2 separate regions of the Homo sapiens genome follow, and region 1 is linked to region 2. Evidence: fine-mapped expression QTL. Tissue or cell type: atrial appendage. Region 2 holds a variant in brackets; the other region holds the start of a gene. All regions are shown on one strand. Distances are from middle to middle.

What was found. PIP is the estimated chance that this variant, and not a neighbour inherited with it, causes the effect.
Region 1: it holds the start of PRKCI, and the variant in region 2 is fine-mapped to the expression of PRKCI in atrial appendage (GTEx, PIP 0.99).

Annotation. Positions count from the first base shown.
Region 1 is chr3:170,220,793-170,223,479 of GRCh38, reverse strand. It overlaps PRKCI (protein kinase C iota), which reads right to left and starts at 1,056. Exons shown (of 18, transcript NM_002740.6): 1 at 710-1,056. The coding sequence starts at 810. RefSeq lists a silencer at 696-985 and enhancers at 1,166-1,325, 1,336-1,395, 1,466-1,525.
Region 2 is chr3:170,004,150-170,006,836 of GRCh38, reverse strand. No RefSeq gene overlaps it. Among named protein-coding and RNA genes, the nearest start is that of GPR160, 33 kb to the left of the region's middle. The variant TTTTAAG/G (reference allele first, on the strand shown) is at 1,108.

The DNA of each region.
Region 1 (2,687 bases), 220 kb before region 2:
TAGGCTAGTCTCCTCACCTTGCAGTATCTCACCCTATCGGGTAGTCGTTGAAACAACACTGAGAAAGAAAGGCTCACAAAATTTTGATTTACACACATGCAACTTAATCTTGACGACACGTAAGTACCCACTGCACGTCCCTGAAAACGCATCGACTTGATTCTTAAATACAACCCCTATGTCTAATATACTGGCAGTGCAGATACACTACGTGAACACAACGGGGATGGAGGTATATCTCAGAGAACCAGAGGCGTTAGGCCTGCTGGTAATCAAAACGGACAGCTAACTGAAGAAGTCCCGTTTTCTATCCCCACAGCAAACTGAGTTAACTAAGGCATCACTTGGAATCCTCAACTCGCAACCCCAAATACACCCAGACTTAAGGATGCAAGGCCCCTACAAAGCTCTCAGGAGGCGAGTCTCTCGTCCACACCAGGTGCACCTACTCTAACCCTAGCTTCCTTCTCGGACCCTACTCTGGCCCCTCGGCTCCCCGCACCGCCATACCTGGGGGCGCCCCCAGTACTGCATCCCCTTGCTTCGCCCCCACCCCTATCACTTCGTCACTCACCCTGAGTCACCGGAGCCGCCCGCCCGCCCAGCCCAATCCGCCCACAACACCTCCAGCCCCTCACCCTCCCCTCCTCCAGGCCGAGTGGAGCCGGCCTGTCCCCTCCCGCCCACCGCCCTGTCCCAGGACACTCACCCGCGGTAGTAGGCTTTCACCCGGACCTGGTGGGAATGGTCCCCGCTGCCGCCGCCTGCGACCGTGTGGGACATGGTGCTGCTGTCCCTCTGGGTCGGCATCTCCTCACTCCCCCGCCTCAACGCTGGAGGCCGGGGGTGCGGGGGGGCGCTTCGGGCGCCGTGGGGGACTCCGCCGCCTGCGCTTGCCGGAGAACCGCGGCCGTCCGCCCACCTACCTGCCCACCTCGCCCGCAGCGCCGACCCAAGGGTCGCCTCGCCGGAGCAGCCGGAACCGCGCGGCTCCTCCCACTGCCCGTAGGCGCCGCCGCCTCTACAGCCGCCCGGGCCCAAGACACCTCCTGCGTCGGTCCCTCCCACTTCGCTCGCTCCAAAGGCCCACATTCCGGGGTAGGGCGGGCGCAACCATCCAGCCAGCTCAAGGAGCCTCAATACCGGGCTGAACCATCCTTACGGGGGCAGAGAAAGGGGACAGAGGGAATGGGAGACGCTGATCATGGCATCAAACACGCCGAGAGGGGTGCTTTCACGCGAGCTGTGAAAGAGACAATGACCAGCTCTAGATCACTAAAGTCTCTTCCCTGCAGGGACAATGGTAGGGACAAATTCTACGACACCTCACCCTAGCCTCGCAACTTGGTCACGTCTGCGGTCGGCCGACTTGGCACCCGGGATAGATTTGCGTGCAGGTTTCTGGGATTTGGAGTCCTCATAGGATTCTGGGACTTGAGGTTCCTTGCGCGTAGGGTGCCGCGCCTTCCCGCTGGTGAAGTCTGTCTCTCCAGCGTGCTCCCTGGAGCTGTCGGGGTGGAAAACCTGGATCCAGCTTGGGCATCTGAAGGTCCTGGAAATGACTGGGCTTCCTCACGTTCTAGACTTTATTAACTGATGAAGTCTCCCTTCTTCTAATTGCATAAATCGTCTGAATTATACATGTCTTTTGGGGGAACAAGAATTTGGTTACCTGCTCAGCATAACCTCTTTTATGGAAATAATTTAATAACATATGTAACAAATATAATAAAGGAAGAAACTCAACCAGAAAATATGATGAAAAACCGATTTTTCTTCTTTGGGGGCCCCCATATCTAGGCCCTTGTAGACTGCCCTTGCATGGAACAAGAGCCCAATGAATACTTACCCAATCAAGTCAGTCAATCCAAGAGCATTTCATTCTGTAAAAACTGGCTTACCAAAGATTAGAAAGAATCGTCCTTGGCCGGGCGCGGTGGCTCAAGCCTGTAATCCCAGCACTTTGGGAGGCCGAGGCGGGCGGATCACAAGGTCAGGAGATCGAGACCATCCTGGCTAACACGGTGAAACCCCGTCTCTACTAAAAACACAAAAAATTAGCCGGGCGTGGTGGCGGGCGCCTGTAGTCCCAGCTACTCGGGAGGCTAAGGCAGGAGAATGGCGTGAACCAGGGAGGCGGAGGTTGCAGTGAGCCAAGACTGTGCCACTGCACTCCAGCCTGGGCGACAGAGCAAGACTCTGTCTCAAAAAAAAAAAAAAAAAAAAAAAAAAAGAATCGCTCTTGTAACCTAGTCTTTGACTTTCCTAGGATCTTGGCTCTGACACATAATTTACACTGCAACTACAGGTAGCATGAATCCAGCCCCTGCAGCAGTCCTGGTGCTGAAAGAGTTGGAATAATCAAAGAAATAGCTTTCTTTACGATGATAAAATAGGCTTGGGGGACTGAGTCATCAGTTATGTGTGACACTTCAGCGTGGTACGACATCCTCCAACTGCTACAGACTTGGATTATATACTCTTACTAAAAATTCCCCTTGAGTCAGGCAAAGTGCTACATGCCTGTAGTCCCAGCCTTTGAGAGGCTGAGGCTGGAGGATCACTTGAGCCCAGGAGTTCAAGGCCAGCCTGAGCAACATGGTGAGACCCCATCTCTTAAACAAACAAAAAAATCCCATTGAAAAACTTGGTATCAGGTTTTTCAGTAATTGGAGACCTGCATCAGC
Region 2 (2,687 bases):
AATTCTGTTCTTTCTCCCACCTTCACATTATTATATATATCAGTGGCCTGCTGGACATTTGCATCTGGTTGTCCCATTTTAACATAACATATTCAACACTGAACTACCAAACTAGATGCTCTTCTAAAGTCTCACAGTTTTCTTTTGGTCCATCTAGTTGCTCAGGCCAGAAACCTGGGATCACCCTAAATTCTGTCCTCTCCCTCTCCACAATCCACCTTTGCATCCTTTATCTTCTTAGTTATTCCTGCATCCACCCCATCTCAACCCCGCCTACTACCACTCTCCTCCTGAGATCATAAAGGTCTAAGCTAATTGAGAAGCAAGATGGTAGAGTCAAGAGACTTTTAACATACTTTAGTAAGTAAAGGATAATTTTGAGGTAGAGTGAAGAGACTTTGGTGACTAATATACATGCGTGGGGACTCAGGATGACTGAATTTTTAGCTGGGTCAGCTGTGACTTAGGGTCAGAAAGGGGAGCAGGCCTGCAGGGATGGAGATTAAAGTTCCATTAAAGTTCCATTTGGACATGTTAATATTGAGGTGCCCATGGGACTGAGACTCATAGTGAAAGTCCAGGTTGGAGCAAAAGATTGAGGGTCACATTTGAAGCAAAGGAAATGAATGTAATTACCCAAGGGAGTGTTTCAAATGAGCATGTACCAAGGAAGGAGTTTTGGAGACTCAAAGTTTCAGGAGCAAATAGAGAAGAAGGAGTGGCCAGAAGTAAAAAAAAAAAAAGAACCAGGAAAAAAGCCATGTCCTGGATGCTGAAGGAAGAAAGAATTTTATTTTATTATTATTCTGAGACAGGGTCTCCCTTTGTCACTCAGACTGGAGTGCAGTGGCAGGATCATGGCTCACTGCAACCTTGACCTCCTGAGCTCAAGCTATCCTCTGCCTTAGCCTCCTGAAGTAGCTGAGACTACAGGTGTATGTCACCATGCCAGGCTAATTTTAAAATTATTTTTGGGAGAGAGGGGGGGTCTCACTATGTTGCCCAGGCTGGTCTTGAAGTCCTGGGCTCAAGCAATTCTCCTGCTTCAGCCTCTCAAAGTGTTGGGATTACAGGTGGGATCCACCACACCAAGCTTGGAAGAGATAA[TTTTAAG/G]AAGGTGAGAGGTGAAGGTTTGGATGCTGATGGTGAGGAACGATGCAGGGATAAAGTGGGATAAAGGCTGAAAAGAGGTTATTTGGCTCAGCAGTTGGGTGAGTTTGTACTCATTCAAATATTTCACTATTTGGGGGACTCTGCCTCTCACTAAGAATCTGAGAGGTAGCCGGGCACGGTGGCTCATGCCTGTAATCCCAGGACTTTGGGAGGCTGAGGCGGGCGGATCACGAGGTCCGGAGATCGAGACCATCCTGGCTAACACGGTGAAACCCCATCTCTACTAAAAATACAAAAAAAATTAGCCGGGTGTGGTGGCAGGCACCTGTAGTCCCAGCTACTGGGGAGGCTGAGGCAGGAGAATGGCATGAACCTGGGAGGTAGAGCTTGCAGTGAGCCGAGATGGCACCACTGTACTCCAGCCTGGGTGACAGAGCAAGACTCCATCTCAAAAAAAAAAAAAAAAAAGAATCTGAGGTGAGGGTAAATACTTCTTTTTTTCTGAATGAGAAGCCAGACCCCTTGATCCAAGCTCAACCAGTGGATGCTGCCATGGAGGACTTTGACTCTTGGAAGAGTGATGCAAAGAGTTGGGGCAGTCAGACCAGTCAAGGCAGAGGTGCAGCGAGAGGATGCAACAGCAATGAAGACCTAAGTAGCTTGTTCTGGTGGCTGGTCCTGGGCTGTCGGATATTTCCTGGTTCCTTTCTGTTTTCTAAGCTTTCTTTTCCAGCCTTCCTTTCAATCTTGGGAGCCATTTGCACCCTTCCCTAGAAAATCCCATTTCTGCTTCCTCTAGCCAGAGCTGGTTCAGTTCTTTGCAACCAAGAACTCTGAGATGTACAGAGATCTCAGCAGGAGTAATTTCAGAAGTTGGGTACAGGAACCAGCTTGCAGTGGGTTAAATTGAAGTGGAAAATAAGAATTATTAAAAAAAACAAGGAGCGATATGAGAATGCTTGGACACAGGGCAGGGAACATCACACACTGGGGCCTGTCAGGGGTTGGCGGGGCTGGGGGAGAGATAGCATTAGGAGAAATACCTAATGTAAGTGACGAGTTGATGGGTGCAGCAAACCAACATGGCACATGTATACCTATGTAACAAACCTGCACGTTGTGCACGTGTACCCTAGAACTTAAAGTATAATAATAATAATTAAAACAAAAACAAGGAGCGAAGGGAGAGAGAAAGGCACCTAAGAGAGAAGCAAGGCGGACAAAAGTTAGTTGTTGGAAAGGGAGGTCAGCAGGGCAGAAACCAGTGAAAAAAGCCACCAGAGTAAATTTCTTCCTCGCCTTGACATTTAAGGTCTCCTACAATATGATCCTTACTTGGGTTTCTAGACTCAACCCCCAATATTCCCTATGATTAAGCCACTCAGGACCCTTCATATTTTCCACAAAATGCCCCATTGTCTCTTTTGGTTTGCTTGTTTGTTTTTACTCAGGATATAACCTTGGCCTGAGGTGTGCCCACAGATTAGCCTGTCGATCCCACTGGTCCTCAAAGGCCTGTTTCTGATCCCTCAAATGAAGTGATTTCCTCTGACTTTAAAATTCCCAAGGCAACT